3 separate regions of the Homo sapiens genome follow, and regions 1 and 2 are each linked to region 3. The links come from fine-mapping of genetic effects on gene expression. A gene starts in region 3. Each other region holds a variant in brackets. All regions are shown on one strand. Distances are between the middles of the regions.

Region 1 (8,179 bases), 28 kb before region 3:
AAGTCTTGACTTCCAGGCTCAAGTGATCCTCTTACCTCAGCCTACCGAGTAGCTGGAACTACAGGCTTGTGCCACTATGCCCAGCTAGTTTTTAAACTTTTTTTTTTTAGAGAGACAGAGGTCTCACTATGTTGCCCAGGCTGGTCTTGAACTCCTGGGCTCAAGCAATCCTCCTTCCTAGGCCTCCCAAAATGCTGGGAATACAGGCATGAGCTGCTATGCCTGGTCTTAATCTACTTTTGTCTGCAGAGGTTAACTTTGTGTTGCAGACAGTAAGTAGGTCCAGTTATAGAAGCAAGTACCTTCAAGGGATGGAGGATGAGGTGATAGCATCCTAGAAAAGAAAAAATGAGGCCAGGCGAGGTGGCTCACACCTGTAATCCCAGCACTTTGGGAGGCTGAGGTGGGCGGATCACCTGAGATCAGGAGTTTGAGACCAGCCTGGCCAACATGGTGAGACCCCATTTCTACCAAAAAATACAAAAATTAGCCAGGTGTGCTGGGCGCAGTTGCTCATACCTGTAATCCCAGCACTTTGGGAGGCCGAGGCAGGCGGATCACAAGGTCAGGAGATCGAGACCATCCTGGCTAACACAGTGAAACCCTGTCTCTACTAAAAATACAAAAAATTAGCTGGGTGTGGTGGCACACGCCTGTAGTCCCAGCTACTCGGGAGGCTGAGGCAGGAGAATTGCTTGAACCCGGGAGGCGGATGTTGCAGTGAGCCGAGATCGCACCACTGCACTCCAGCCTGGGCCACAGAGCGAGACTCCGTCTCAAAAAAAAAAGAAAAAAAATTAGCCGGGTGTGGTGGCATGTGGCCTGTAGTCCCAGCTACTGGGGAGGTTAAGGCTGTAGGATCGCTTGAATCTGGGAGGTGGAGGTTGCAATGAGCCGAGATCATGCCACTGTATTCCATCCTGGGCGACAGAGTGAGACCATGTCTCAAGAAAAAAAAAAAATAAAGAGACACAGATGTCCAGAGGTGTTGGGGGAGAGTGGAGAGACTCGATAACAGGTTAGATTGTCTTTAGAGGAATTGACATTTTGACTACAGTACTCATTCCTACTCTTGACTATTTTCAGGGGTTCCAAGAGAAAAATTTAAATAGGACAGAGCTAAAAACACCGACTTTCACTCACTAAAATGTTGTCATAAATTTATGTATCTTGATCTTGGAAAACATCAGTATCTATGCCTCATTTTACCTTTTAAGATTTCAGATTTATCACCCGAAGCATTTTCTCTATTGCCTTCCCCTTATATCAAGATATCCTGTTGGTTTATTGGGGTTATCCTAATCTTTATGTCAGATGAAACTCATCCTGGTTGTAATTATTTTTAGGTTGAATTACCATTGGATTTGCCAAGTACTGAAAAATCAGTAGCACTTTTGTTTAAACTCTGTTAATAAACACTTCTGAGTGAATTTTGCTAGTGTCATTATTTCCCATGCTTGCTGAGTAGAAGGTTGAATTATTATTACTTCATAATTCATATTTGTTCAATGCACACTGTGTGAAGCTGAGTTTAGGCCTCTCGAAGACTTAGCCTCTTTCTTTCTGTTCCTGTGGTTTTGAATACCATTTACATGACTCACGTCTCAGATTTTCTTTCCCTACCAGCCTCCCTGTGTTGGTTTGTGACTTTATCTGTCAGTGTTCTCTCAGGTATTTACTTAGATTTCTGCAGGCATCCTCAAGGTCAGCGCATCAGCCAACTTCTGTTGTTTAACAGAACCCTTCTTTGTGCCCTGACTCTATCTCCAGTTCTTTAGGTACATGAGTTCAGTGTTGATTCTTGACTGCTTGCTCCCACACCCATGCTTGGCAGCCTCCAACTTTCTTAAGTCCCATCTATCTCCAATCAGAGAAATGTTAGCCATCTTTCATGGTCAACTTCATATTCAGTGGACAAGGTCTGAACTGACTAGCAGGACTAACACGGGCAGCTGTTCGCTCATCCATTGCTCACTTACACTTGAGTCATTTTGCTTACCAAAGGTCAGTTGTGATGTTTCCAGATCTCTTTATGCCAGTAAACTGGTACTGTAATTATGTAATTTGATTAAATAATATACAGATTAAATTATGAGGGAGAAAAGAAAATTATTCTGGCTGTGCATGGTGGCTCACGCCTGTAATCCTAGGACTTTGGGAGGCCGGGGTAGGCAGATTGCCTGAGCTCAGGAGTTCAAGACCAGCCTGGGCAACATGGTAAAACCTCGTCTCTACTAAAAATACAAAAAATAAGCTGGGCGTGGTGGCGGGCGCCTGTAGTCCCAGCTACTCAGGAGGCTGAGGCAAGAGAATCGCTTGAGCCTGGGAGACAGAGGCTGCAGTGAGCCGAGATCGTGCCACTGCACTCCAGCTGGGCAACAGAGTGAGACTGTTTCCAAAAAAAAAAAGAAAAGAAAATTACTCTGTGAAAAGTAAGAGGAATGCTTTGGAAGGACAAGTACTTTAAAAAGGAAATGAAGCTGAATTAGGTTTGGGCAAGATAACTATGGAAGAGTAGAGGTGGAAGGATCTTAAAAATCTAGGATTCTGTACTTACTGTTTCACAGCAGTTTGAGTTCTAACTTTAAGAAACTGGAAATTGTAGATGATGCATTCTGGGTGAGTTTTTTGCAATAATGGCAAAAAACTCTAATCAGCAGAAGAGATCCTTCTAGGTTGGGCACATTGGCTCACACCTGTAATCCCAATGCTTTGGAAGGCTGAGGCGGGAGGATCCCTTGAGCTCAGGAGTTCAAGACCAGCCTGAGCAATATAGCAAGACCTCATCTCTACTTAGAAATTAAAAAAAAAAAGAAAAAAAGCTGGGCATGGTGGCACATGCCTATAGGCCCAGCTACTCATGAGACTGAGGCAGGAGGATTGCTGGAGCCCAGGAGTTCAAGGCTGCAGTGAGCTATTATCATGGCACTGCACTCCAGCCTGGGTGACAGAGCAAGACCCTGTCTCTAAAAAAAGAAAGAAAGAAAGAAGGAAGGAAGGAAAGAAGGAAGGAAGGAAAGAAAAAAGTAAAGAAAGAAAGAGAGAGAGAGAGAAAGAAAGAAAGAAAGAAAGAAAGAAAGAAAGAAAGAAAGAAAGAAAGAAAGAAAGAAAGAGAAAGAAAGAAAGAGGGTTTTTTGGCCCTAGCCAAAAGTTCAGTGGCTCTCAAAGTTTTGTTGTTTATAACAATGATGGTAGGCTTGAACATTCACGGGAAAAGTCACAGTAAAAGTCAGATTAACCATATCTTTATTACTTTAGTTT[T/G]AAATGCTATCCATGGACTCTCAGTTACTGAGGGTGAGGAAATCAGTGTTCGTATTCTACCTCCCTCCTTTTTCCCCTCTTCTCTTCCTAGTTTTTGCTAGCTGGAGTTTTATACATCATCAAAGCATATAGTATTGACGATCTGTTGTTACCCTAATCCTATTTTAGTCTTAGACCTACAGTTAAGTAGTTTTCAGTGCTCACCGTAAGTTTTTGCCGTAGTTTTTTTGTTTTTGTTTTTGTTTTTGTTTCTGAGACGGAGTTTCACTCTTGTTGCCCAGGCTGGAGTGCAGTGGCACGATCTTGGCTCACTGTAACCTCCTCCTCCTGGGTTCAGGCGATTCTCCTGCCCCAGCCTCCCAAGTAGCTAGAATTACAGGCACATGCCACTTCTGCCCAGCTAACTTTTGTTTGTTTGTTTTTTTCTGAGATAGAGTCTCGCTCCATCACCCAGGCTGGAGTACAATGGTGCGATCTCAGCTCACTGCAGCCTCCACCTCCCGGGTTCAAGCAATTCTGCCTCAGCCTCCTGAGTAGCTGGGATTACAGGTGCATGCCACCACACCTGGCTAATTTTTGTATTTTTAGTAGAGACGGGGTTTCACCATGTTGGCCAGGCTGGTCTTGAACTCCTGACCTCAAATGATCCACCCACCTTGGCCTCCCAAAGTGCTGGGATTACAGGCATGAGCCACCAGGCCTGGCCCTGCCATAGTTTTTCCAGTCACCTGTTAGTTGGCACAAGTGCTTCCTTTTGTAGATTCCTTAAGAAATACTTGGCTGGGTGTAGTGGCTCATGCTTGTAATCCCAGCACTTTGGGAGGCCAAGGCGGACGGATCACCTGAGTTTGGGAGTTTGAGACCAGCCTGACCAACATGGAGAAACCCCATCTCTACGAAAAATACAAAATTAGTCAGGCGTGGTGGCACATGCCTGTAATCCCAGCTACTCAGGAGGCTGAAGCAAGAGAATCGCTTGAACCGGGGAGGCAGAGGTTGTGGTGAGCGGAGATCGCGCCATTGCACTCCAGTCTGGATAACAAGAGTGAAACTCTGTCTCAAAAAAAAAGAAAAAAAGAAATACCTGGGAATAATGGTCCCCATTCTGTTACCCTTGCTGGACAGTTGACTGGGTATAAAGTCCTTGAGTCTTCTGGGCACAGTGGCTTACGCCTGTAATCCCAGCACTTTGGGAGGCCAAGGTGGGCGGATCACAAGGTCAAGAGATGCAGACCATCCTGGCCAACATGGTAAAACCCCGTCTCTACTAAAAATACAAAAATTAGCTGGGCATGGTGGCGCATGCCTATAGTCCCAGCTACTTGGGAGGCTGAGGCAGGAGAATCGCTTGAACCCAGGAGGTGGAGGTTGCACTGAGCCGAGATCGCGCCACTGCACTCCAGCCTGGCAACAGAGCGAGACTCCGTCTCAAAAATAAAAATAAAAATAAATAAAGTCCTTGAGTCACACTTTCTGTCCTTGAGAATTTTGTAGGTGTTGTTCCATTTTCTGTTAGCATTAAATATTAATGTGGAAATTTTCATTATTTTGTTTCTCTTTTAAGTGATTTGATCTTTTTGCCTGGTTGCAGGAACCCAGAAACCTTACCTAAAGGTGTATCTTGGTACTGCCTATTCTGAATTTGTTTCCCCTGGGATACAGTGTGACCTTTCAGTGTGTAGACCCCAATCCTCTTATAGTTCAGAAACACCTTAGATTCTATCTTTATGAACATATCTTTACATATTTTTCCCATTCATGTTAAAGTTTTCTTTTATGCAAATATTACATCTCCTTTGCTGTCTTTTGTAACTGTTTCTTCTCTATTTCTTTTAGCCCTTTTTGGTTTCATTTTTTTTTTCCATTTCTCTCCTTTTGTTCCTAGTGTGTTTTTAGCAGTTTCTTCTCCCTTTGCTTCTTCCAGTTTCACCTTCATTTCTGTAACAGTATTTTTCCTTTCACTTCTTTCCTCAGTTCTGCCAGTATGCAGCTTGTCTTCTCTTCTCGTCTCCCTACCTCTGCTAAAGTTCTTGTATTTCTGCTTTGAGCTCTCATTTCATAGAGACAACTATTTTATCAAGTTTTCTTTTTTTCTTTGTGTAAAATATTTTATTACCATTGTATCTAGTCCATGGAGGCCCTTTTCCAGTCTGTGGTCTTAGTCTGCCATTTGGTTTTCCTATTTCTTTCCTAATTTTTTCTCGTTGTATATTTATATAGATCCTGTTTAGATTTTTTGTATACTTATCTTTAAATAGGCAAGTTTTTCAGGGACCAGCTGTTTTGCAGGATGTTTGTTGGAGGAGCTACCAAAACTCTGTTCTGGGCTAGCTACAGTTGTTCCCTTGATTTAGGGTTCTGGGTGAGTCCGTTTACCCTTAGTCTCTAGCCAGCCAATCGAGATAGGCAAGGCGTCTCTTAGCATCTCCACAATGCAAAGGATGTCTTCTCTACTACCACAGACACCACCTCTGTGAGGCAAATGTAGCTTGCGTGATTTCTCATTTAGCCTCAACTTCAGGTCCAAGGAAGTTCCTGCCTTCCAAAAACAAGGAATTAATTTGGTGCTGGAGTGTGTCCTTTACCCACAGGAAGTACATATTTTTGCAGATCTTTCTGAGATCACCAGCTTCCCTGTCCTCTCCCTGTAGCATCCTTTCTTCTTTTTCTTCTGTGAAGCAAAGGAGTCCCTGCCTGAGCTCCCTGCTTTTGACAGCTTTTTCACCTGTTTGGGGGTTTGGAATTTTGGATATCCTGTAGTTATAACAAAAATGGAGTTTGCATTTTTATTTCTTCTTTTTGCATTTGGAACATATTTTGAACAGCATTTGAAAATGCTGACTTTATGATGCAGTGTTAAATAAGAAGTTTTAACTGACTTTTTCTGTTAACCAGCCACTAGTCTCCACGACATCATGTGTTAGGCCTTTTACTATACCTTCTCCAGAAAGCCCCCACCACCACACTGTTGTCTATCTTCGAAGTCCCTAAAGCCCAAGGAATATGCTACTTAGATATATGGAAAGCCTTTCATTCATTTAGCATGCCTACTCTGAGCGTTGTTCTAGGCCTTGGAGATAAAGCATGGAAGAATTAATACAAGATATTGACACACCAAAGACAAGTCTTAAATGATTTCATGTGGACTAGGGGTCAGGGATGAATAGAGTGGAAGACATAGTTTGGGATTCTGAGGAAGTATGATATAAAGGGTAGAACATGAGCTCCGGAATCAGCACCATTCTGCTGCTAATATACATGACATTGGGATCATTTTATTGCCTTTTCCTCATATATAAAATGTATCAATTTCTTCATATATAAAGTGAAGTCAGGCCAGGCGTGGTGGCTCACGCCTGTAATCTCAGCACTTTGGGAGGCCAAGGCAGGGGGATCATCTGAGGTCAGGAGTTCCAGACCAGCCTGGCCAACATGAGGAAACCCCGACTCTACTAAAAATATAAAAATTAGCTGGGCATGGTGGCGGGTGCCTGTAATCCCAGCTACTCAGGAGGCTGAGTTGGGAGAATCGCTTGAACCCAGGAGGCGGAGGTTGCAGTGAGCCAAGTTCACACCACTGTACTCCAGCCTGGGTGACAGAGTGAGACTCAGCCTCAAATAATAATAGTAATAATAATAATAAAGTGAAGATTATATTACCTACCTTAGATGAATGTTGTAAAATTAAGGTAAGTTACATAAAGTACTTGGTTCATAATAGATACTCAACAAGTACTACTTTCTACCCACACAGGGATTGGCTAAATAAAAGGAATAAATACTGAAAGTGCAGGTATAGAGGACTATTTCTCTCCTTTTTTGTTAAATTGTGGTAAAATATGTAACATATAGTTTCCTGTCTTCACCATTTTTAAGCTTACAGTTCTGTGGCATTAAGTATATCCACATTGTTGTGCAGTCGCCACCACCATCCGTCTCCAGAGCTCTTCATCTTGCAAAACAGCACCTCTGTACACATTAAACAATAGCCACCACTGTCCTCTTCCCCCTGCCTCATGGCAGCCCCCGTTCCAGTTTCTGTCTCTGAATTTGACTACTCTGGGTACCTCACAGGAGTGGAATCACACAGTCCTCATCCTTTTGTGTGTGGGTTGTTTCACTTATAGTATCTTCAAGGTTCATCCGTGTTACATTGTGTCTCAGAATTCCCTTCCCTTTTACAGCATCTCAATTCAGATGAAAAAAAAAAAAAGAATTCTTTTCCTTTTTAAGGCTGAATAATATTCTGTTGTATTTCTATGGCACATTTTGTTGATCCAGTCGTCTGTTCATGGACACTTGGGCTGCTTCCACCTTTTGGCTGTTGTGAATAATACTGCTATGAACATGGGTGTACACATTCTCTTCAAGTCTTTACTTTCAGTTCTTTTGAGTGTATATCCAAAAGTGGAATTGCTGGGCCATATGGTAATTCTGTTTTTAATCTTTTTGAGGAACCACCATACTGTTTTCAGAGGCCTATTTCTTGATGGGGAAGTATAAACAGTGGAATTCCCCCAGGGAATAATTTTAAAACCAGTCTTGTTTAACATTTTGTAAATTATCTAAATATGAGACTTTTACCATTAAATCTTCATTTGCATATAGCTAATGAATAATTCATATTGTATAAAATGTAAGAACACCTCGTGAGAGTGTGTGTGTGCGTGTGTGTAGACAGAACAGTGGTTAATAAAGCTCAATGTGGGCACACACGCAAGGGAATACATTTGATTTATTATACTCTGTCCTCAAGATCAGAAGTTCCCTGCACTTACTGAGGGCAAAATACAGGGAGCCAATGCCAGAGAACTTCAGATGTCAGAAGTGCACAGTGCCCAGATATGCAGACACATCTTTCTTCTTGACTCTGCATTGCTGACAGAGTAAACTGGTGGTTGACTCTAGACTCTGGACC
Region 2 (8,179 bases), 62 kb before region 3:
TTGTATACTGTATTAAGTTCAGAGTGAAACCCAAGCCCCCTATTACAGCCTGTAAGGCCCAACATGGTCCGGCTCCTTTGCCTCTCTCTCCCCTCACCGTATACACGCTCATCTTCACTATGCTCTAGGCTTCTTGCTGTTCTTCAAACACAAGTACATTTTTGTGTCTGGGCCTTTATACTTGTTCTGTCCCCTGGAATACTCTCATCTAGGTTCCTTCACTTCAGCTCTTTCAATGACTGACTTTTACCATTTATGTCTCAGCTCGAATTTTAATCCTTGGACAAACTTTCTTAGCACTCTATCTGAAGTAACCCCTGTCACATCATCCTGTTTACTTCCTTCAGGGCACTTAGGACAATAGAAAATATCTTGTTTCATTTGCCTCCTTGTTCTTCCCACACCCAGAATATAAACTGGATAAGAACATGACTTGTTGACTGTGGTGTCAACAATGGTATGTTCCTAGCATGTAGTCATCACACCTTTAACAATGGTTGAATAAACATTTAATACATAATTGGATTTAGTTTTTACCCTTCATTTCTTCATTTTATTCTACTGAGTTAACTGAGTTACATTTTTCTTTCTGCATTACTTTCATGTTGTTTTATTTATTGTTTCTTTTTTTTTTTTTGAGACGGAGTCTTGCTCTGTTGCCCAGGCTGGAGTGCGGTGGCGCAATCTCGGCTCACTGCAACCTCCGCCTCCTGGGTTCAAGCGATTCTCCTGCTTCAGCCTCCTGAATAGGTGGGACTATAGGCGCCCACCACCGCACCTGGCTAATTTTTGTATTTTTAGTAGAGTCGGGGGTTTCACCATGTTGACCAGGCTGGTCTCAAACTCCTGACCTCGGCCTCCCAAAGTGTTGGGATTACAGGCGTGAGCCACTGCACCTGGCTATTTATTGTTTCAATATAGTTTCACATACCTAGTAAGACTAGTTATTTCCCCTTTGTGGCAGTTGTTTTTCAGTACGTTCTCTGATATTTATAACTATTTGTTCATCCATATGTATTCTTGAATAATTTGTAAAGGTCCCAAAAAGTCCCTGTTGGATTATAATTATAATTAGAAGTGAATTAACAGTTAGCATTTCCCTCTTGTTTATTCATTTCTTCTTTTGAATCTTACATTAAAGTTTCTTTTATTTATTTTTTATTTTTTGGAGACAGAGTCTCACTTCGTCACCCAGACTCCAGTGAAGTCTAGATCCTGGCTTATAATATCATATTTTATATATCCTAAGATGCACATTTTATCACATTCTAATAACTCTAAAATCTGAGATCATGCCACTGCACACTGGGCAACAAGAGTGAGACTCCATCTCAAAAAAAAAAAAAAAATGAAGAGTATGTTAATTTATAATGCCTCCAGTACTATGTAAGTTTGTTATATAATTTGGAGTCTCACTCTTGTCGCCCAGAGTGCGGTGGCGTGATCTCAGCTCACTGCAACCTAACTTTGAGGTTAGGAGTTCAAGACCAGCCTGGCCAACATGGTGAAACTGTATCTCCACTAAAAATGCAAAAAAATTAGCCAGGCGTGGTGACAGGTGCCTGTAGTCCCAGCTACTGAGGAGGCTGAGGCAGGAAAATCACTTGAACCCAGGAGGTGGAGGTTGCAAAGAGCCGAGATTGTGCCACTGCACTCCAGGCTGGGTGACAAAGTGAGACCCCAAAAAATAAAAATTAATAAAAATTAAAAGTAATCATACTCTATATATAGTTCTAAAACTTTCTTTTTCATCATTTAAGTTCTGGAGCTTTTTCCACATGCAGTTTTTTTTGACGGTGTGTGATTTTCCATAATATGGATGTATCATCATCTTTGATTCATCATGCTACTTGTGGGCATCTATGTTTTTCCCAATTTCTTGCTATTGTAAAGGATGCTGCAATGACATCCTTCCACGTGCATCTATATGCACATATGTTAATTCCCATAGTACAGATTTCTCAATTGGAATTGCTGCTTTAATAAGGGCATGTGTTTTTTAAATGGATAGATACTGCTGAATTGCCTCCAAACAAAGGCTTTGCCTTTGATACTTGTACTAATGGAATGTAATAAGAATGTATCTGTTTACCCATAACCTCACTGACTTTTGAATATTAAGAATATTTTCACACTGGGTGCAATGGCTCACGCCTGTAATACCAATACTTTGGGAGGCCAAAGCAGGAGGATCGCTTAAGCCCTGGAGTTTGAGACCTTCCTGGGCAGCATAGTGAGACTTTGTCTCTACGAAAAAATTAGCCTGGCTGGGTGCGGCGGCCCACGCCCGTAATCCCAACGCTTTGGGAGGCTGAGGCAGGCAGATCACTTGAGGTCAGGAGTTGGAGCAGCCTGGCTAACATGGTGAAACCTCGTCTCTACTAAAAGTACAAAAATTAGCTGGGCCATTGTGCGGGACGTCTGTAATCCCAGCTGCTCAGGAGGCTGAGGCGGGAGAATCACTTGAACCTGGGAGGCGGAGGTTGCAGCGAGCCGAGATCATGCCACTGCACTCCAGCCTGGGTGACAGAGCGAGAGACCCTGTATCAAAACAAACAAAGAAACAGCAACAACAACAAAAATTAGCCTCGGGTGGTAGCATGCATCTGTGATTCTCAGCTACTTGGGAGGCTGAGGTTGAAGGATTGCTTGAGCCCAGGAGATCAGGGCTGCAGTGAGCTATGATTATACCACTGCACTCCAGCCTGCATGACAGACCAAGACCTTGTCTCAAAAATAAGATAAAAATAAGAATATTTTCAAATGTTTGCCAATCTGATGGGTGAAAAAATGCAAATTCATTGTTTTCACTAGAGTTTCCCTGAATAGTGGTGAGGCTGCGTATCTTTGGTATTTGGAAATGTCTACGATATTTGTCCACTTTTCAAAAGGCTCATTTGTTTTGTTTGTTTGTAAGTTAGATTTTTTCCTAATTGTATGCATATTCTTTTTTTGTTATATTTATTGCAAATATTTTCTCCTACTCCATTGGTCTTTTTGCTTTATGTAGGTACATCTGGAAGTTGTTTTCTTCATAGCTCCCAAGGTATGAAAATATTCTCCTACAGTTTTGCTGTTGTTTTTTTTTTCCTTTGGAGAAAACCATTTTTATTATCATCACCACCCAGCTTATTTGTGCTGGATTATGTACCAGTGGCAAGATCTTCTAACGAACATCTGCATAACATTTATTTTATGTTTTAAAAGATGAAAATAACTGTACAAGGTTAAGTACAAAAGTACACAAGATAACAGACACAAAAAAATGCATGTATGAGATTTCATTCTACCTACAGCACTTTATGTTCAAAAAGTAGAATTCACGAACCAAAAAATATTGTCCTTCTATAGTCCTGTCAGGTTTAGTGAAAGCGAGTCTAACATGATTACAACACCTATATCACTGATCTGATATTTATGAAAAAAATCTTATTTTTCAATAAATTAAAGCCAATGCAAATGGGAATAGCATTTCAGTTTTTTGGTGTTTTTCTTTTTTTTAATTTTTTTTATTTTGAGACAGAGTCTCACTCTGTTGCCCAGACTGGAGTACAGTGGCATGATCTTGGTTCACCGTGACCTCCACCTCTCAGGTTCAAGCAATTCTTGTGCCTCAGCCACCTGAGTAGCTGGGGGTTTTCACCATGTTGCTCAGGCTGGTCTTAAACTCCTGGCCTCAAGTGATCCACCTGCCTCGCCCTCCCAAAGTGCTGGGATTACAGGCATGAGCCACCGCGCCCGGCCATGTTTCAGGTTTATAAAATAGAGATATGAACATGGATGGTGGTGATGGTTGCACATTATGAACGTTATCGAATGCTACTGAATTGTACACTTAAAAAATGGCTATGATGGTAAATTTTATGTTACGTGTATTTTACCACAGCTTAAAAAAAGAGAGAGGAAGAAAAGCCAGTGCAACACCCTACAAACTGGAACACTAGCTCTTTGGGAACAAGGACCTGACATCAGAACAAGAAGGCTATAAGTTCCCAAACCTTAAAAGTATGATCTTTTTCAAACTGCATCCATTTCTCACGTTGAAGATGTGAAACCCAATCCCGTTCCTCTTTATGTGTGGGTCTGTGATCTTGCCTTTTCATACTGAGCATCTAAATTTCTAAATACAGTACTTCCTATTGCTTCAAAGTCTTCTAACTTTCTTCATCAAGTGAGCTACATCTAGCTTCATCTTCACTCTTAATACCCACTAATTTCCATATATATGACATTTTGGTCCTTGTTTCCCAAAGTCATAGTTCAGCAGACGGGGAGTTTGCCCAGTTTTTCTTGCCTTGACTTTTTTCCTCTTGTTCAGCAAATTTCACTGGATTTCCAGCTGCTGTGTCATAATCCCTAGGTACAGCTGTTCTGTCTCTGCCAAAGCTGTTGCTTGCAGGGCTCCCATTTGAGCTGCCATAGCTATCTGAGTTACTGGCATTCCTGATGCCAACAGGGCAGCAACATTGAGAACAAAATCTCTAGTAACTGGAGCTATTTCTTGTTTTTGTTTTTCAATGATTTCTTTTTCTTTTAAAAAATTTTTTCCCAACACCCATCCCAACTATTTCTTTTTCTTGCTGTTCTTGTAATTTCTTTGCCTAGTCCATCCTCCCAGCTAAAGCTTCTTATGCATCCTTTGCTGTGCCTCTGCCTCTGAAGAGAGATGAACTGGAAATCTGGCTTAAACTTCTGCTAAATCTTAGTTTCTCA[A/G]TGCTCTTCTTTCTCTCTTGTCTTCTGCTTCCTGTACTACTTCTGCTTCTTTCCTATGCATGTCATATTTATTTATTTACTTATTTTTCACACGCAACACAGATGTAGTTTTTATCTTGAACAGGAGCAAGATCTGATCCATGGTTTTCTTTCTTTCTTTTTTTTTTCTTTCCTTTTTGGAGACGGCGTCTCACTCTGTTGGCCAGGCTGGAGTGCAGTGGTGTGACCTCAGCTCACTGAAACCTCCACCTCCTGGGTTCAAGTGATTCTCCTGCCTCAGCCTCCCAAGTAGCTGGGACCTCAGACATGCATCACCACGCCTGGCTAATTTTTGCATTTTTAGTAGAGACAGGGTTTTGCCATGTTGGCCAGGTTGGTCTCAAACTCCTGAATCTCAGGTGATCTGCCTGACTTGGCCTCCCAAAGTGCTGGGATTACAGGTGTGAAGCACCATGTCCAGCCCATGGTTTTCTTTTCCTGCTTCTAGATCATGATCGTTCTTCTCTCTGCTTCTGGATTGAGACTACTTCTTTTCCCTCTACTACGATGATGCCTTTCACGAGACCTGTATCTTGAGTGACTTCTGCTTCTTGATGGCTTTCTTTGTGTTTGTGTCTGTCCTCATCATTTTCAGATGAATGTATTTATTTATTGAGACAGCATGTCACTCTGTTGCCCAGGCTGGAGTGCAGTGGCACAATCACAGCTCACTGTAACCTCTGTCTCCCCGGCTCAAGCTTCTCACCACAGCCTCCCGAGTAGCTGGAATCACAGGCACACACCACCACGCCTGGCTAACTTTTGTGTTTTTTATAGAGACAGGGCTTTGCCATGTTGCTCAAGCTGGTCTCAAACTTGTGAGCCCAAGCAATTTGCCCACCTTGGCCTTCCGAAGTACTGAGACTACAGACGTGAGTCACTGCGCCCAGCCCATTTTCAGATGAATTTAGTCCCTCTCTTCCTTTATCAGAATAATGTTCTTTGTCATTATGCTCCTCAGAAGTGTATTTCTTAGAGGATTTGTTGTAGGATTCCTGTCTTCTTGCCTCATCATGAAATAGGCTTATTATTTTCCTACCTGAGTCTGCAATGTCTTCAGTTCAGCCTCTTTGCCCATCAGCATGCGCTTTGTGTTTTCGTCCTTCGTTTTCTTTCTTGTTTTCTTTCTCTTGACCTTGATTGTGATCTTGAATAATATTTTGAGTAAGAAAAACAGATGCATCTGACAGTTCTTTTTCCACCCACTATCTGGGGATGTCTTTTTCTGGGGCTAGTCCATCTTGTCCTGGATAACTACCCTATCTTGAGAACCCAGTCTTAGTTTCATGAAACATCTTTAATGAAAACAGCCTTTTGGGATGGTGCTGCTGCAAACTGTGGTCTGGCTCTCCTCGCATGTGCTCTGGCTGCCGCAGAACAGAGCTCAGGCCGCTAGGGGGCACCTCCACGTGCCGCTTTTAGCAGTACCAGCCACCTCAAAGCTTTGCCACAGACTGAATAGCTCCTTCCGGGGGCCTGGATGGCACCCAGGGGATCTGCCGTTGCTTTTTTAATTTATTTTTTTACATTTAGCTCATTAATATCTGTTAGATATTTTTATGTCTGCATTGAAATATGTAACTTTATTTTTCCCCCAAAGGATAACTGTTCCAACATTATCAGTTAGCTTGTCTTTTCCCCACCAACTTAAAATACGACTCTTATTTTTAAAATTGCATTTTATAAACATGTATGTTTCAGTAATTTATATTCTGCCCCACTGATCTATATTCCCATCTTAGAATTATACTTTTATTTTATTTTTAAAATTTATTTAGAGACAAGGTCTTGGTATGTCACTCAGGCTGGAATGCAGTGGTGCAATGATAATTCACTGCAACCTTGAATTCCTGGGCTCAAGCAATCCTCCCACCTCAGCCTTCCAAGTAGCTGGGACTACAGGTGTGTGCCACTATGCCTGGCTAATTTTTTTATTTTTATTTTTTTGTGGAGACGATGTTTTGCTATGTTGCCCAGGCTGGTCTCAAACTCCTGGGCTCGAGGGATCTTCCTGTCTTGGCTGCCCAAAGTGTTGGGATTATAGGCATGAGCCACCTCACCCAGCCTTAGTATTATACTATTTTAGTTAACAAAGCTTTACAATGAATTTTGATACCTAGAAAGACTGCACCCAGGTGAAATAAACAGCCTTGTTTCTCACACAAAGCCTGTTTGGTGGTCTCTTCACATGGACACGTGAGACAGATTTCGCTAGGGAAGCAAATAACCATGGAGGTGGGCAAGAAATATCCATGATTGTAGAGCTTTCAATCAGCCTTTTATTCTTGTAACAAATGAAAAACAAAGGATTATCAGACATCTGCGGAAAACCTCTAACATAGAAGAAGGAGATAAAATGAACAAACAATAAAAAGCAACTTAAAAATGGACACCATATAAAGAAAGGAAAACAGTTTAAAAAAAAAAAAAACCCAAAACCCTATTCTTAAGCTACAGAGAAAGCCTGGCCAACATGGTGAAACCCTATCTCTACTAAAAATACGAAGTATTTTAGCCAGGCATGGTGGCACATACCTGTAGTCCCAGCTGCTCAGGAGGCTGAGGCAGGAGAATCACCTGCACCCGGGAGGCTGAGGCTGCAGTGTTCTGAGATCACACCACAGCACTCCAGCCTGGGTGACAGAGTGAGACCTTGTCTCAAAAAAAAAAAAAAAAAAAAAAGCCACAGAGAAATAAGACATTTATTTTAAATAATAATAAGACCCATTTATTAATTAGAAATAAAATAAGACCCATTTATGTCTTATTGCTAAATGGGTGCTAAACAAAAACACTCACAGCCTTGTTGCTCACACAAAATGAACAAAATGGTCTCTTAGAAATAAAAAATGAGAGGAAATGGAAACAAACAAAAACCCACTTCAACTGAAGTATTAGAAAATCAAGTTAATCAATTGTCTCAGAATGGGCAGAGATGGAAAATGGGAGAGAAAAGATGAGAAAATAAGACAGAGGCCGGGCACAGTGGCTCACGTCTGTAACCCCAGCACTTTGGTAGGCCAAGACAGGGGGATCACTTAAGGTCAGGAATTGGATATCAGCCTGGCCAACATGGTGAAACCTCGTCTCTACTAAAAATACAAAAATTAGCCAGGCGTGGTGGTGCATGCCTGTAATCCCAGCTACTCAGGAGGCTGAGGCAGGAGAATTGCTTGAACCCAGGAGGCAGAGGCTGCAGTGAGCCAAGATCGTGGCACTGCACTTCAGCGTGGACAACAGAGCGAGAGTCTGTCTCAAAAAAAAAAAAAAAAGAAGACAGACAGAGGTCCAATACTTGAATATAAGCAGCTCCAAAAAGATTGATTAGGAATGTGGAAAGGAGGGAATTCTCAACAAAATAATTCGATAAAATTTCCCAGAACTGAAGGACTTGAACTGCAGGATTATAAGGGCTTACCAAGTACCC
Region 3 (8,179 bases):
AAGCCCATAATTTATTTAACCAATCCTCCATTACTGAACATCTAATTGTTTCTGATTTTCCCCTATTTTAAATCATGCTGTATTGAGCATTCCTGACTTCTCCACCCCTTCTGGATTAGGTCAAAGCAAACCTGAGACATCAAATCATTTCATCCACAAATATAAGTTTATAATTTTTATTTATTTTTTTTTTGAGAAAGAGTTCTGCTCTTGTCGCCCAGGCTAGAGTGCAATGGTGCGATCTCAGCTCACTGTAATCTCTGTCTCCTAGGATCAAGTGATTCTCCTGCCTCAGCCTCCTGAGTGGCTGGGATAACCGGTGCCTGCCACCATGCCCGGCTAATTTTTGTATTTTTAGTAGAGACAGATTTTCACCGTGTTGGCCGGGACTCCTGACCTCAGGTGATCCACCTGACTCAGCCTCCCAAAGTGCTGGGATTGTAGGCATGAGCCACTGCGCCCAGCCAAGTTAAAAAAAGTTTTTAAAATAGAGATGGGGTCTTGCTATGTTGCCTTGGCCTCAATCGATGCCCCTGCCTCGGCCTCCCAAAGTGCTGGGATTACAGATGTGAGCCACCTCACCTGGCATTCAAATTTTTATATTATAGCCAGGCGCAGTGGCTCACGCCTGTAATCCCAACATTTTGGGAGGCCAAGGCAAGTGGATCACCTGAGGTTGGGAGTTTGAGACCAGCCTGACCAACATGGAGAAACCCTGTCTCTACTAAAAATACAAAATTAGGTGGGTGTGGTAGCACACGCCTGTAATTCCAGCTACTCGGAAGGCTGAGGGAGGAGAATCGCTTGAACCCAGGAGGCGGAGGTTGCAGTGAGCCAAGATTGCGCCATTGCACTCCAGCCTGGGCAACAAGAGCAAAATTCCATCTCAAAAAAAAAATTATATTATAAAGCCTGTTAATCTTCTGGTCTTTCGTCTTCACTTTTAATTTTATTTATATTTTGATTAGACACGGTATTCACATGGTTCAAGATTCAAGAGAACAAAAGGATATGCTGAAAAATGCGTTTCCCACCCTGTTCTCCAGCTCCAGTTTCCTTCCTGGGAAACAACTCGTGTTATCAGCGCGTGCACATATAAAAGCAAATTGTGTGTCTCTGTGCTTTTTCCATTTAAGTACAATTGATAAACGACTTGAACACGGCTCTGCGTCTAGGTTTTATTACTAAACAACCTGTCCTGGGGAGCGTTCTGTAAGGAGAATCCTAGTTATTTTTGATAGCCATATGCATTCCATTGCAGGGCATACAATAATCATTCATTTATCCCATCTCTATTGGTGGACATTTAGGTTGTCTCCAGCTATTAGATTGGTGCAAAAGTCATTGTGGTTTTGGCTCAATGTTGCAGCGATGCAGTGGAAAGCCTTGTGTATTCCTTTCACTTACGTGTGAGCATTATCTGTAGGATAAATTTCTGGAAGTGCCAAGTCAAACAGGACATGTGTTTATATGTTTGATAAATACTGCCCAAATATTCTCTTTTGAGGTCGAGTCAGTCTACACACCAACCAGCAATGCAGGGGGTTGCCTGTTTTCCTCCCACCCTTGCGAATAGTGTGTTACCAAACTTTTTTTTTTTTTTTTGAGACAGGGACTCACTCTATCGCTCTGGCTGGAGTGCAGTGACACGATCATGGCTCACTGCAGCCTTGACTTTTCAGGCTCAAGCAATCCTCCCACCTCATTCTTCCAAGTAGCTGGGACTACAGGCACGTGCCACCACGCCTGGCTAATTTTTTTTTTTTGGTAGAGACAGGGTTTTGCCACGTGGCCCAGGCTGGTCTCGAACACCTGGTTTTAAGTGATTCTCCTGCCTCAGCCTCCCAAAGTGCTGGAATTACAGACATGAGCCACTGTGCCTGACCTACCAAACTGCTTTTTATCTTTGCTGATCTGGTAAGTGAAGAATAGTATCTTTTGTAGTTATAATTTTCATTTTCTTAATAAGTGAGTTATTGAACATCTTTTTACATGTTTATGAGCCCATGAATTTTCTTTCTGCAGGAGCAAGCACTGTCTCTTCATCTTTTTTTTCACAGGGGGTGGACAGAGTCTCTCTCTGTTACCCAGGCTGGAGTGTAGTGGCGCAATCTCGGCTCACTGCAACCTCCACCTCCCGGGTTCAAGCGATTCTCCTGCCTCAACCTCCCCAGTAGCTGGGATTACAGGCACCCACCACCATGCCCACCCAATTTTTGTATTTTTAGTAGAGACAGGGTTTCACTGCATTGGCCAGGCTGGTCTCGAACTCCTGACCTCGTAATCTGCCTGCCTTGGCCTCCCAAAGTGCTGGGATTACAAGCATGAGCCACCACGCCCAGCCCACTTAGGCTATTTCTGATTTTCCAGTATTATAAGTAATACTGCAGTGAAAAGCCTTGCATATAAATATTCTATTTCCTTAGGCTAAATTTATTTATTTTTTTGAGACAGTCTTGCTCTGTAGTCGAGGCTGGAGTGCAGTCATGTGATCTCAGCTCACTGAAGCCTCTGCCTCCCAGGTTCAAGCGATTCTCGTGCCTCAGCCTCCCAAGTAGGTGGGACCACAGGCATGCGCCACCACACCTGGCTGATTTTTGTGTTTTAGTACAGACACAGTTTCACCAGGTTGCCCAGGCTGGCCTTGAATTCCCGACCTCAAGTGATCCACCTGCCTTACAGGCATGAGCCACCACGCCCAGCCTCTTCAGGCTAAATTTCTGAAAGTGATCTTCATTCCTAACCCCAAACTGCCCTCCAGAAAGCTGGGTTGCACTTCTGCCACAGCAGGATCTTTACTCCTCTTAAAATCTCCGCGGAGCCTGGGTGGGAGAGGCAGAGCTCCGGGGGGAAGATTCTCTCCTGGCCTGATGTAGTGTTTTCCTTGGCTTGTCAGACATGGAGGAGATTATGCCAGATATGATAGTGGAGAGAGTCAGACATGCATGAGACTGGAGAGAGAAAAAAAACAAAATAGCCTCTGAGGTCTCACTCACAGCCTACTTACTCTTACTTTACACACAATTCTATATTCCGATATGTTTGTGACCTGGTTTTTAAGAGTACAGAGCAAATTAGGAAGGAGAAGCAAGGCTGCTACCTAGAGGTACCCTGGTCCTCCATGAAGTTTCCAAAAGAAGAGCAAGTGCAAGTAAAATAATAAAACACAGCCAGTCACAAAGCCATCAATTTGGACCATGCAGTGCAAGGCTTTAACTGTCCCAAGGATTCCAATCATGGATAAGGAAGAGCTTAAATTTGATTATAAATCTGAAAGTCTGGAAGTCAGCTTGAATATTGTGGTAGACATAATCATATCCTCCTCCTCAAAAGATGCCCTGGTTCTAATGCCCAGAATCTGTGAATATGTTATGCTACCCCACGAAGGGAAATTACAGTTGCAGGTGGAATTCAAGTTGCCAATCCATTGATTTAAAATAGAAAGATTACCCTGGATTATCTGGGTAGGCCCGATGTAATCACAAAGATGCTCACCAGTGGAAGCAAGAGGCAGAACAGTTGGTGTCAGAGTGACAGATTGTGAGAGACTGGTGGGCCACTGCTGGCTTTGAAGATGGATGGGGCCACCAGCCAAGGAATGTGGGCAGCTTCTAGAAGCCAGAAAAGCCAAAGAAACAGGTTCCCTTCCAGCCTCAAGAAAGCTGTATCCCTCAACCCCCTTGCTTTTAGTCCAGCGAGACCCATTTTGGACTTCTGATTTTACAAAACTTGTAAGATAGTAAATTAGTGTTGTTTTATGTTTGTGTTACGGCAGCCACAGGGAACCAATACAAATATTATCTGGTACCGCCCATTAAAGCTGCTCAGAGACAGGGAGCCCCACCCTGGCGGGGCTCCGGTGGCTGCACAACCTCTGCAAGCAGGATCAAGATGAGAGGCGCAGGCCAGGTGTGGTGGCTCACTCCTGTAATCTCAGCACTTTGGGAGGCCAAGGCGGGCGGATCACTTGAGGTCAGGAGTTCGAGACGAGCCTTACATGGTGAAACCCTGTCTCTACTAAAACTCCAAAAATTAACCAGGCGTGGTGGCGTGCACCTGTAGTCCCAGCTACTCGGGAGGCTGAGGCAGGAGAATCGCTTGAACCCAGGAGGAGGAAGTTGCAGTGAGCGGAGAAAGTGCCACTGCACTCCAGCGTGAGCGACAGAGCGAGACTCTGTCTCAAAAACAAATAAAGGAAAAAGAAAAAAATGAGAAGCGCGTGTTCCCGACTCCGGTGCTTTTTCGCAAGGTCGTGCTACTGCGCCTTCTGAACTACGAGTCCCAGGTACCAAGAAAGTTGAATTGCGTGCTGTGGCGGGTCCGTTATCTGCACCACCCGTCTGCACGGGATGCGCTGGCTTCCTGCCCCGGATGCACAAGGCTCCCTGCGGGACACTCAGGGCGAGGCTCTGAGCCCCTCCCCCGCGGCAGATGCCGTCCAGATGTGGCCGGCGGGTCCCGCGGGCTGCGGCGACAGGGACCCCGTCGGGGGCAGCAGGAGCCCTGGTGCATCCCAGGCCCCGGGGGGAAGGCCGGGCCGTCGGAGGAGCGGAGGAGCCCTGGGGGGCTCCCGGGAAGCCGCGGGCGGACGGGGGAGGAGCCCGGGCGGAGCTGCGGGCGGGCGGCCCGCTAGGGGTGAATCGGGTGGAGTAGTGGTCGGGTCCGGTTACTTCCCTTTAAAAAGACGGGAAAGGAGGAGTCCAGTGCTGGAGGGGCAGGGACGGCGGCGGCGCAGCTCGGAACCCGCCAGGGTCCAGGGTCCAGGTTCCAGCGCCCGGCGGCCCAGGCAAGTGGGGCGGGAGGGCGGGGGCTGCGGGCGCGGGTAGGGGTCGTGGGGCAGTTGGGTGCGCGGGAACCGAGGGAGCTGCAGACCCAGCGCTTGGCGCGTGCGGAGCTGGACTTCTGCGGCCGCGACGCCCCTCTTCCCAGATGGGTAAACTGAGGGCCAGGGAAAGCGAAGAATTCTTTTGGCCGAGCTCCCACTACGATCTCGCGGTCAAGTGGGTCCCCAGCGGGCCTCGCAGGGGTCGGAGGGGCTCCCATCTGGGGAGGGGGCCCCAGGGTGGGCGAGGGCGACGGGAGCCTGGGGAGGACGGACGGGGAGGGCGGCGGAGCGGAGCTAAGCTGCGGCGGGTGGACCCGGCTCGGCCGCGGCCACTCTGTCCCTGGTGGGTGGGGCGCGGCCGAAGGCAAAGGGCGAACCCGGCCCGCCTGTGGGGTCTCTGGCCAACACTGGGCTCAGAGGCCCTTTCTTTAACCTTAGATCTCGCTCCTCGGTCTAAAGCCTCCGCCGCAGCTCTCAGTGAAGAGGAAGGGGAACTCTAGGTGCTCAACGCCCGCGTTACAGTCGCGTTCTCCCTCGCTCCTACAACCCGGCCAAGATGCCGGGGCATGGATGGGGACCGAGGTTTGGGGGTTGTGGAGCCTATTCCACGCCCTCCCTGGTGAGCAACTGAGACAGATCCAGGGCCCCATTGCAATCCACTCTTGGTCTGGGAAAAGGTCCCCTAAACAGGGCCAATGGGATCCTTTCCCCAAATGACTCCAGAACGCACCCCCCCCCCCCAGCAGTGCGGTGGGCAGGGACGGCCCAGGTGGGCTATGTCCTGGGGTTTTGTGACTGGATCCCCACTCCTCCCCCACCTCAGCCCCTGGACTGCAACCCACCAGGCCGTGTTCGGGGGTGGTCAGAGCCCTGGTCTCAGCCAGACCTGAGGTCTGATGTGGCTTCATCCCTGAGTCTCTAAACGCCCTGGCCTTACTGGGCCTCAGTTAATTCACCTGTGAAAGGGGAGGCTTGGACCAGAGGGCCCCTCAGGGTATGTGTTTTGTGGAGGGGAGGTGGGCGTGTGGGGTAGGGGTGACCAGGAGGAAGTGGGGACAGCCTCTGTCCCACAGGAAGGCTGGCTAGCCCCAGTGGGTATGGGGGAGCTGGGCAGGGAAGAGGGTGGACTCCCCTCTCCCTGTGGGAGGGTGTGCTGGGCCCATGAGGCCCTCATCCACTCTCAGCCACCTTCCTGTGGAGCCCTAGCCTCGAAGGCCACACTATGAGTGCAAGGAGGCCACCCACAGCGCTGCTCCCGCTTCACAGGTGGGGAAACCGGCCCAGTGTCTTGAGGCAGCCCAGCCGCCTGCCCTGTGCTTCCCCCAGAGCCTTCTGGGGAATGAGACCTTCGTTACACGCTGGCGCTCCTTACACCCCTACAGCCTTTAAGCTAAGGCCTCCAGCCCCATCGCTGTAAGAATTGTATGCTAGGCATTCTGAGGACATAGATGGGGGTCCCCATGTCGGAAGGAGCCAAGGTGTTGGAACTGGGTCCAGTTCCTGGGCTGGCTCTGGTGGGAGATCTGGAACCCTATGCTGGGGCTCCTGGACAGCCCTGGAGGCATGGCATGGACAGTGTGTCAGCCGCACACCGAGGCCCTGGGGTGTCCTTATTCACATAGGCTGGCAGCCATCTATCCCTAGCCCGGGCTTCACCCCGGGTGCCTGTCACTCCTGGCCCTACAGTGGTCCCAGTCACACCTTGGAGGCAAGATGTGGGTCCTCCACAGGCCTGTGTCTGGAAGCAGCCCCCAGCACTCCCTGGCTAACAAGTTCTACTTCTGAGAACTACCCCCAGCTCCCAGCCCTGGTCTGGCCAAATGGGTGCGTGTCTTCTCCTGTGGTCTTCAACTCCCCTTGGCACGGCCACAGTAGATGTGAGGGGCTGTATGGGAGGACATTTTTAGGAGGCATATGTAGTTAAGCTGTGGAACCTGCTGCTAACTAGCTGTGTGGCCTTGGGCAAATCACTTAACCTTTCTGTGCCTCAGTGTCCTCATTTGCCAAATGGGGGTGATTATCCTGGTAGGGCACATAGTAGGTGCTCAGTTTCACCTACCATGTGTCTCACCAGGATAATCACCCCCCATTTGGCAGACAGGAGTTGCCAGGCAGGATCTGTGGCCCCACACAAACCCTATGTGTACTTCCCCCACCCACAAATGCCTCTGCTCCTTCCTCCTGTGTGCCCTGCATTGGGCTGAAGAGGCTGATGAGAGGCAACTTCCCATTGGGGCCTTCTGAGGTTCTTGCAGGAGGGGCAATGTCCAAGGCTCCCAGAGGAAGCACCCTGGGGTGATGCAGCTATGGGCGGAGGCCTCAGAAGCCTGGGAGAAAGCCAGGGGCCTGCGGGGACAGAGTGTGCCCTGGCCCAGGCCCAGCCTCGTCCCTACCCTTCTCGCTCACTGCTCCCTCAGAGCAGACAATGAGCCCCAGGTTGTCCCTGAGCTCCCAGTCTCATAGTTCACAGTCAGGGACACTGAGTGGGAGTGGGTGGGGCCTACCCAAGGACCCAGTGGTCGGGGATGGAGCATGGATAACACAGCAGCTCACCCGGCCACGGGTGCTCAGCTCTCCCGGCCACAGCCCCTCCCAGGCTCCTGGAGTCTTCATATTAGAGTAGAAAGCCTCTTGCACTTCACATCTGAGACCAAGGAGCCTCTCCCCACCCACAAGTGTGGGTGTCTTCCACACTGTGACTGTGACTTAGTTATGCCCTGGCATGATCGTTGTCAACCTTCATGTTTTTTGGTTTTGGCTTTGGTTTTAGTTTAGAAGAACTTACGTTTTCTGGACTAAAACATAGGCAGGGAAGAAATACATAAACCCATAGAAAGGCTGCTTTAGTTGAAGTGGGTTGAGAGCTCGGCTTCTACCCCGTCAAGAAATTCACAGCGAAAGGAACACATGCATTTTGCTCACTGGCAGAAAGAGCCTGCACCAAAGACAACCCGCAGGGCCAGCAACCCCAACATCATACAGGGTGGAGCAGCAGTTCCCAAAGCGGGTGCAACTGGACAGGATCCTTTTAGGAGCTACCTAGAGGAACAATTTTTTCTTTTTTTCTTTTTTTTTTTTTTTTTACTTGAGATGGAGTCTCACTCTGTCGCCCAGGCTGGAGTGCAGTGGCACGATTTCGGCCCACTGCAACCTCCGCCTCCCGGGTTCATGCCATTCTCCTGCCTCAGCCTCCCGAGTAGTTGGGATTACAGGCGCCCACCACCACGCCCGGCTAATTTTTTGTATTTTTAGTAGAGATGAGGTTTCACCGTGTTAGCCAGGATGGTCTCGATCTGCTGACCTCGTGATCCGTCCGCCTCAGCCTCCCGAAGTGCAGGGATTACAAGCATGAGC

The links. PIP is the estimated chance that this variant, and not a neighbour inherited with it, causes the effect.
Region 1: its variant is fine-mapped to the expression of ANPEP in whole blood (TOPMed, PIP above 0.99).
Region 2: its variant is fine-mapped to the expression of ANPEP in whole blood (INTERVAL, PIP above 0.99).

The regions. Positions count from the first base shown.
Region 1 is chr15:89,839,144-89,847,322 of GRCh38, reverse strand. All of the region lies in intron 8 of ARPIN-AP3S2 (ARPIN-AP3S2 readthrough), which reads left to right. The region is part of intron 4 of AP3S2 (adaptor related protein complex 3 subunit sigma 2); the gene reads left to right. It overlaps LOC124903552 (a long non-coding RNA gene), which reads right to left. Exons shown (of 2, transcript XR_007064754.1): 2 at 7,979-8,179. Among named protein-coding and RNA genes, the nearest start is that of MIR5094, 7.5 kb to the left of the region's middle. The variant T/G (reference allele first, on the strand shown) is at 3,262.
Region 2 is chr15:89,873,132-89,881,310 of GRCh38, reverse strand. All of the region lies in intron 7 of ARPIN-AP3S2 (ARPIN-AP3S2 readthrough), which reads left to right. All of the region lies in intron 3 of AP3S2 (adaptor related protein complex 3 subunit sigma 2), which reads left to right. It also overlaps the pseudogene LOC100631255. Among named protein-coding and RNA genes, the nearest start is that of MIR5009, 6.8 kb to the left of the region's middle. The variant A/G (reference allele first, on the strand shown) is at 4,714.
Region 3 is chr15:89,811,379-89,819,557 of GRCh38, reverse strand. ANPEP (alanyl aminopeptidase, membrane) reads left to right here and starts at 4,706. Exons shown (of 21, transcript NM_001150.3): 1 at 4,706-4,786. RefSeq lists cis regulatory regions at 4,323-4,325, 4,343-4,372, 4,371-4,374, 4,282-4,410, 4,662-4,667, promoters at 4,282-4,770, 3,616-4,770 and an enhancer at 4,638-5,137.